Regions from separate parts of the Homo sapiens genome. Here region 1 is linked to region 2. The links come from fine-mapping of genetic effects on gene expression. A gene starts in region 2. The other region holds a variant in brackets. All regions are shown on one strand. Distances are from middle to middle. Region 1 overlaps PELATON (plaque enriched lncRNA in atherosclerotic and inflammatory bowel macrophage regulation). Region 2 holds the start of PELATON (plaque enriched lncRNA in atherosclerotic and inflammatory bowel macrophage regulation).

Evidence for each region. PIP is the estimated chance that this variant, and not a neighbour inherited with it, causes the effect.
Region 1: its variant is fine-mapped to the expression of PELATON in spleen (GTEx, PIP above 0.99). The same link has a PIP of 0.9 or more in whole blood.

What each region holds. Positions count from the first base shown.
Region 1 is chr20:50,274,379-50,278,636 of GRCh38, forward strand. PELATON (plaque enriched lncRNA in atherosclerotic and inflammatory bowel macrophage regulation) reads left to right here. Exons shown (of 4, transcript NR_170992.1): 2 at 1,273-1,357; 3 at 3,113-3,235; 4 at 3,799-4,258. Among named protein-coding and RNA genes, the nearest start is that of PELATON, 9.0 kb to the left of the region's middle. RefSeq lists enhancers at 248-749, 750-1,249, 3,094-3,631. The variant G/A (reference allele first, on the strand shown) is at 2,167.
Region 2 is chr20:50,265,171-50,269,428 of GRCh38, forward strand. It overlaps PELATON (plaque enriched lncRNA in atherosclerotic and inflammatory bowel macrophage regulation), which reads left to right and starts at 2,308. Exons shown (of 4, transcript NR_170992.1): 1 at 2,308-2,493.

The DNA.
Region 1 (4,258 bases), 9.2 kb after region 2:
GCGGCACCCAGTAGGTCCTCAGGTCTGCACTCCCCTGTTGTACCTCTAAATCTTCAAGTATAACAAATGCTGTTTGAAAATACCTTATGATGGTGGGCCGAGGTGGGAGGATCGCTTGAGGCCGGGAGTTCCAGACCAGGCTGGGCAACAGAGTGAGAACCCATCTCTAGAGGGGAAAAAAAAAGAACTAGCTGAGTGTAGTGGTGCACGCCTGTAGTCCCAGTTACTTGAGAGGCTGAGGTGGGAGAATTGCTTGAGCCCAGGAGATTGAGGCTGAAGTGGGCTATGACTGTGCCACTCCACTCCAGCCTGGGCAACAGGGCAAGACCCCCCATCTGTCTTAAAAAAAAAAAAAGGAGAAAAAGAGAGAGAGAAAATACCCCATGGCCTTGGTTTCCTTATCTGTGAAATGGGGATGATGATGACAAGCCCCCAGAGGGCTTCCCCGCACCCTGGCAGTGACTGACACAGAGGCCCTGAGAGCTGCGTGTTCCAGAGTCATGCAGCTGGTACATGGCCGAGCTGGTGGGGTTTGAACCCTGGGTGCCTGAGTCAGGGAGAACAGGCGGAACAGTTGGGCCAGGGAGGGGAAGGTGCTGCCCAGAGCTCCCAGTGACCTTGGACCCCACTTCTCCTTTCTGCCCAGTGTGCTCGGCACACAGGAAGCCTGGCGGGGCCTCCCTTGCCCATCCTGTCTGCAGCCGGGTGGACACGGGGTCCCGGCGTCACCCACCGCCACCCAGGCCTCCTCCTTCCTGTGTTGTGCAAGACGAGGCGTCCCCTGTGTGGAATGGGCAGGCAGCTCTGGCGATGGGTGGACGGGTGAATGGGGGCCTCTCAGGCGGGGTCACTGCCCGCGGTTACCTCTAGCAGGCCTGGCCTAAGCCTCCGCCCCTTCCTCCTCCTTCTCCTCCTCCTCTGTTTCCCCAAAGTTCAGGCAGCCTTAAGCAAGAGGCTGTGGGACCCAGGAAACTGGGGAGGTTGTCCAGCCACCATCTTGTCCCCACAGAGCAGACCTAGGCTTGCGCAGTCTTGGAGAGGTCCTAAACAACAACAACAACAAAACTATAATAATAATGATAATAGCTGTTATAGTGGAGTGGCTTCTATGCACCAGGCATGCTCTCATTTAACCACAAATACATAAAACGCACCTCCTATGTGCCACGTGTGATTCTCAGACCTTTACCTCATGTCCCATCGAATCCCCGGCAACCCTTGTGAAACAGTTTTTTTTTTGTTTTTTTTTAATGATTCCTTTCTTCAGAGTAGAAAACTGAGGCTCTGAGAGATGAAGCTACTTGCCAAGGTCACGCAGCACAGTCACATCCTACTGAACATCATCCTGTTCTCTGGGGTGAGTGCTGTCCTGGAAGTTGGGGGGCTCAGAAGCTGTTGGTGCCCACCTGGGAGGTCGCCCTTGCAGCTGCTATCCTGAATCTCTTGCCCAAGGGCTTCCTCTGGCCACAAGAGTGTGGGAAGCAAGTGAGAGACCCCTGCCAGTAGAGGTGGGGTCTGTTTGTCCCCCCACTCAGCTTCCTTGCTTCTGGCTCAGGGGACAGTGGGAAGGTACTTTCTGCGAGTTGTCCCAGAGGCCTCTAGGGGGTTGGGCTCCTGTTGCCCACTGAGGAGACCTGCTCATCTACCTTCCTTGTGTCACTTCCTCACTCCTTCCCAGTGTTTCTAGAATCACCTCCCAAATATCCCACTTGCACCCAAAACCTTGTCTTGGGTCAGCTTCTGGGAGCCGACCTAAGCCAGCAGCTATAATGCTCAGGGCTTAAGAGCTTTGGAATCAGATGGACCTGAGTGTGAATCCCGCCCCTGCCACTTAACCTGAGTGTGAACTTGGGAGCCTGCCCCACCTCTCGGAACCTCAGTTCCTCCATCTATGAAAAGGGAACTTACGTGCAGAAAACCAAGTGACTATGAGGGGGATGGGGCAGTGTGAGATGACGGGACCAGAGCACGTTCCTGGCTGCAGAGGCCACAAGTCACGCTGTCTCTGAGAGGTATGGGGACAGGGGCGCAGAGGAAGAATGATCGCGAGTCCTCAGCCCTGTTTGGCTGACGGGGGACAGGGATGGGTGGGAAAGAGGTACAGCGTTTTTCCACCTTCCCCACCCATCACCCCTGAGATTCCAAATGAACATCGGGACCAACCCC[G/A]GGAGCCCAGCGGATGTTCAGGGTAGGGCAAAGAACAGGTGCCAAGTTTGCTCCCTGGGGTGTGAGACTGGGCAGCCTCAAGAGCTGCATTGGTAGGACTTTCACCAGGTAGACAGCAGGCACCTCGCCCCTGCAGATCACAGCTTCCAGGGCCACCTGTCCACAGAATCCCTTCACTGATCTGTGCTTGAGGCAGGGGTGTGTGGACTGGGAGTCCTTCTTTTACTCTGGGTGGGGCCTCATGCTCAGAGGGAGCTCTGTCTACCCCCACCACAAACCTGCAGTTTCCCTGCTACAGCGATGGCAACCTCAGCCACCTGGCTGCCCAGGCCCCCAACCTGGGTTCTCCCTCTTGTTCCCATGGTCAGCCCATCAGCAAACTCATCCACATGTCCAAGGGTCCACCCCCACTACCCTGCCCTGCCCTGGTCCAGCTAGGATGTTTGCAGTCGTCTCCTCATTGGTCTCCCTGCCTCCTCTCTCGCCTTCCTAAGCCAGAGGAATTCTGTAAGAGCTCAAGTTAGATCCTATCCCTTCTCTGCTCAGAACCCTCTATGGCTCCCAACTCACTCAGAGCAGAAGCCCACAGGGCCTGCAGGATCTCTGCCCTGGCCCCGCCTGACCTCACTGCCTCTCCCTTCTCTGTTCACCCACAGCCACGGTGGCCTCATCTCTCTGCCATAAACTTGCCAATTATCCTGCTGCTGCCTCATTGACTTCGCACCCACTCTTCCCTCTGGAACAGAGGACACTCTCGCCAGCTCTCCCCATGGCGGATCCTTGTCTAGGGTCAGGCCTCTGCTCCAAAGTCACCCCTGGGGACACCTTCTCTGACCAGCCCCTCATTCCTATGGCCTCATGCTGTTTTTATTTCTTCCTAGGACTTAGCACGTATCCTAGAAATTAACCTGCTGGTATATCCTGTTTCTTGTCTGTCTCTTTCCAGTGGAATGTCACCATCGCCCAGGTGGGGATTTTTGTGTGTTTTGTTCACTGCTGTACACCCAGCCCCCAGCACAGCGCCTGTCCAGGACAAGTGCCCAGTAAACACTTGGGAAGCAATGCAAGCGTGCGTGCATGGATAAGTATTTCTTTGGCAGATGAGGGGGCTAAGGTTCAGAGAAGGCCCTGGGGGTCTCAGACTCATAGCCCAGTGCTCTTTCTGCTGACACGCCCTGGTCTCTGGGGCAGTTTGTTGCCTGTTCAGCAACAAAGAGGGTGTGCCTCGTTAGGGGTCCTGCGTGCGAATCGCAGTCCCTGCGTGTCTTGGCTGGAGGTCACCACCCTCTCTGCTCCAGGGCCTGTAATTACCACTTACCCTGGTCAATGGGTCCGAGAGATTACCCTTGTAGGCAGGGCTGTGGCCAGGGTGCTCACCTGGCCCCCAGCAGGTCCCATGGGCACTGTCTGGCCGGGCTTCATGGCTGACATTCCAGGTACATTTCTAGCCCTGGGCTGCCATGGGCAGAGGGTGGGGAGAGGGTCGTGGGCTTCAGGCTGGACAAACCAGTCAGCCTTCCCAGCTGGGCCGCCTGACCACCCACTTCCTGTGGGGCTCCTTGAGGCCTGGAGGGTGGAGGGGGTCTCTGTTCAACCCCCACCCATGCCCTCTTCCCTTCTCTCCCTCGGCAGGTCCTCCCAGCAGCTCCTGCAAACAGACCCCCGACCCAAGCCCTTCCTTCTGCCTCCACTGCCACCACTGCTGCTCATCTCTGCTGGCACAGAAGTCTCTTCCCTGGTCTTCCAGAAATCCCCTCTCCACACTCAGCCAGAGGGAGCTATTAAAACTGTGGGCCAGCCCACATCAGTCCACAGCAAAGTCCTCTCTAAGGGATCTCTGTTGCTTGGAGAATAAACCCTCGGATTCCTTCCTTGGCTCTCGGGGCCTCCTCTCTGACCTCCCTCTGTCTCCTCTCCCAGCCTTCCTCCTCACTCACCCTCCAGCCATGCTGGCTTCCTCCTTGCTCCTGAAACAGCCTGAGGCCCACACTGCCCCGGGCCCTTTGCACTGGCTGTTTCCTCTGCCTGGAACACTTCTCCTAGGCATCCACAGGGCTCCCTCCCACAACTCCTTCGGGTGCCCACATGGGAA
Region 2 (4,258 bases):
AATGAGCCCTCACCGAGGCCTCAGCAGGCAGGTTTCATTACAGGAAAAACTGAGGTATAGGGGTTTGCAGGCCTAACGGGACACGCTGTCACTGTGATAGGAACAGCATTAGCAATAATAACAGCTGTCCTTCCGGACTGGTTCCCAAGGGCTAGGCCCTAGGTGAATAATAAGCCTTTTCTCGATCCTTTCTGCAGCCCGAGAGGAAAGCCCCATGCTATCCCCATTTCATAGATGGGAAAACTGAGGCTTGAGGACACTTTGCGGCCTCCAAGGGCTGTTCTCTTCATTCCTCCAGCAGAGTGGATATGAGACGGTGCAGGGTCTGGAATGTCTGGGCAGAAGGAAGAGCTGGAGCAAAGGCCTGGAGGCTGGAGAGCGCTGTCGGGGGGCAAGTGGGGCAGTGTCCCACTGCGGGGTTTCATCTCAGCTCTGCCATGTCTTGGCTACGTGACCTCTGACACCCTACTGGGCCTCTTTGATCCCAGACTCACCTGTAGAATGGGTGTGTGAGAAGAAAACCTTCTGGAGCGGGGTGTTGAGGAGAGAACAGTGCCTGACACATCATAATAATAATGCTGAATAGATGTTATTTTCATTCCTAACCACTTCCTCCAGGAAGCCCATCCTGACCTCTAGCTCCCAAAGTCACCTGGACTTCCTCCATCACAGACCTTGCCACAGTGTGAGAAACTGCCTCATCCACACACCAGCTTCTCACCTCCACCCAGACCCTCTGATTGGGACTCCCCTGAAGACTGTGTCCCCAGAGCCCAGAAAGAGTCCAGCACAGAGCAGCTGAGGGGGCAGGTGCTGGTGAACAGTGTCAATGAGCCCCTGCTACTCACCAAGCCCTTCACACACGGGTCCTTCATTTAATGTCTTTCTTCTCCTAGATAGAACCTTGGCTTTGCCAAGACCGGTATAGTTGCTGCTCAAGAAATATGTGAGGAAATTGTTGAGATGAACCAGCACTCAGGGGAAGGGAGGCTTTCTGAGGCTGGGGCCTTAGCAGGTGGAGCTCCTGGGATAATAATAATAAGAAAGATGCCTGGACGCGGTGACTCACACCTGGAATCCCAGCAATTTGGGAGGCTAAGGCAGGCAGATCACTTCAGGCCAGGAGTTCAAGACCAGCCTGGTCAACATGGTGAAACCTGGTCTCTACTAAAAATACAAAAAATTAGCTGGGCCTGGTGGTGTGAGCCTATAGTCCTAGCTTCTCGGGAGGCTGAGGCTGGAGGGTCAATGATTGAACCTGGGAGGTGGAGCTTGTAGTGAGCCGAGATCGCGCCACTGCCACTGCACTCCAGGCTGGGCAACACAGTGAGACTCTGCCTCCAAAAAGAAAGACAACAATAATCATTAGTCTTTACTCTGCTCCAGGCACCAGGCTGAGTCTTCTCAGTTCATCTCCCCAGCAGATTAGTTCTATTATTGTTTCCATTTCACAGATGGGAAAATCAAGGCACAGGGAGGGGAGGTGGCTTACTCCAGGTCACACAGTTAGTGAGAGGCAGAGGCAGGATCAAAGCCAAGCCTGTTTGACTGAGGAGCCCGCCCCGAGACCTTAACCACACAACCCCTCCCTAGAAGGAAGGTGCCACTACTGGACACATTTTGGAGATGGAAACCAAGGCTAAGAGAGTCAGGATGGCCTGCCCATGTCTGGACACAGAAACTGAGGTTAAGCAGGAGATGCCCGAGGCGGGGTCCCTGTCTCCTAGGCCAGCACCCTGAAGAAGGGGTGGGAGACAACCCCCCACCCCCCAAGCTGTCCCCTGCTTGTTGGAGTTTCTGGTCAATACCCTGGCCTCTGTTACCCAGCCCAGCACCCAAGACGCTGCCTCTTCCGCCTGCCTGGAGTCTCGGGTGCCTTCACAATCGGATTCTCTGTCTCTGCAGCTGCTTTCCATTTGAGCCCTTTGTGCTGAAAATAAAAAAAATGAAAAGAAAACTTGGCACCACCCCTCTGCTTTGCTTCCTGGGGAGGAAGGAGGATCCCAGCTACTTCTTTCCCTCATTCTGGGGCCCAGAGATACCCACAGCCTGCCCGAGGTCACACAGCAGGGTTGGAGCCGGGACCCTGGCCTTAGACTCCCCTTCCAGTGCTCTACCCACTCTGGCCACTGCCTCTGATGTTCCTGGCTCTTCCTCTAGGCCCGTGAGGAGCAGAGAAATTAGGATGAATGTTCCCGAGCCCTACCACATGCTGGGCACTCTGCCATCCTGGGCTCACGAAACCCTCATGACAGCCCTGTGAGGTCCCGTCATCCCATTTAACCAACAAGGAAGCTGAGGCTCAGAGAGGGGAAGCGCCCAAGGTCACACAGCTGGGATGTGGCAGAGCTGGGGTTCCAGCTCCTGTTCCCATTGCTGGACAGCTGCCACATCTGGCACCCAATTTAGGACCCCGCGGGGAGGCCCAAGCCCCGGGGGTGGCGGGGGATCCTAGAGGAAAGTGGCAAGGCCAGGACCCTGGAGCAGAGCCAGGTAGGAACAATGGGTTCTCAGAGACCAAGGTGGCAGGGCGGGGCGGCTGCTGAGCAGGGGCGGCAGGGCGAGGTGGCGGGCGGGGCCCAGGAGACTTCATGCTCCCGCCTCCTACTCCAGCTCCCTGTTTGGGATCTGGGGACGCTCCAAGCACCTCAGCTTCTCAACCTGGACAGACCCACGGCTCCAGCAGGAGGCAGGGCCAGCCCTGTGTATAACCATAAATATAATGGGCAATAATCAGATTTCACGCTTACCGAGCCCTACTACAGGCCAGACACTGGGTCAAGGGTCCTTCCTGGGTCATCACAATCAGCCTAGGAGGTGCAATTAGGATTAGTGGCTTTTTACAGATGCGGAAACAGAGGTCCAGGGAGCTACTCAGCACCTGCTGTGCCAGGACAAAGAACTTTGGGAAGTGGGGCCCTCAGAGGGTGGGTACCCTGTTCCCAGAGGCAGGAAAGTTGAGGTGGACTGGACTCAGTGGGGCTCAGTGGGACACCGTGGGGAGTCAGTGCTCTCTGGGGGCGAGATGAATTAGAGGGAGCCCTTTTGGTTTTTTAGAATCTGAACATGGGGCGGGGGAAGCAGAGATGTGGGGAGCAGATGAAGCCTCCCTGGCACTGCTGGGAGGATTAAAGGACTTGATGGACACCCAGGGCTTGGAAATGTACCTGGTAGAGAGTAGGTGCTCAGGGAACAACTCCTGTTTGCAGAAACAGCAACTCACACTTAGGGAGCCTGCTGTGCATCTGAACCCCGTGCTTGGGTGTTTCTGACCCCCTTCCAGCTCTCATCCCTCCTCTCTCCATTTTCTCCCCTGTCTCAGGTTCATTCCTATGTTTCCTCTTGCCCCAATTAGGCCATCTTCTATGACTGCAACAGTAAAAATATTAATTAAATCTTATAACATGAAGTCTAACGTGGGGCCATTCCAGTGTTCCAGGGCAGGCTCCCTGCGCTCTAGGTAGGCATCTCTTCACTTCTCTTTCTTCATGGGCCCCAGTGCCTGCTGTGGCTCAAGACATCACGTCCCACATGATCACATCCTAACTAGGAAGAGATGAACAGAAAAGGGGACTTTCTCCTCCAGGATCTCACTTTTTTTTTTTTTTTTTTTTTTGAGACAGAGTCTTGCTCTGTTGCCCAGGCTGGAGTGCAATGGCACGATCTCGGCTTACTGCAACCTCCGCCTCCTGGGTTCAAGCGATTCTCCTACCTCAGCCTCCCACATAGCTGGGATTACAGGCGTGGGCCACCACTCCCAGCTAATTTTTTGTATTTTTAGTAGAGATGAATTTTCACCATGTTGGCCAGGCTGGTCTCAAACTCCTGACTTCAGGTGATCCACCCACCTCAGCCTCCCAAAAGTGCTAGGATTACAGGCGTGAGCCACCGTGCCCAGCCAACAATTTTTCTTACATGTCCCAGTGGATGTCCCCTGGTGTCTCATGGAATGATGGGCTCACATGTCCACATTTGAACCAGAAAGGAATTCCCGTGGCTGACTCAGGCCAATTAGGGTTCAGCCTGTCTGGCTGCTCCAAAGAGATGTGGGCTCCGAAGGTGATGGGGGCACGGCTGGGCTGGCCACCAGCTGGAGTCTCACTGACGGCCTAAGTGGCACAGTGGGCCTGGGTTTGCTCGGCCTTCTCTGGCTGGTCCTCTTGGCAGCGTCTGCCCCCTGGGTAACTGCCCCCTCCTTGAGCACAGTCTTCCCCAGCCTCTTGATGGCGGCTTGCTGGTCTCGCTGGTTCTCCTCTTA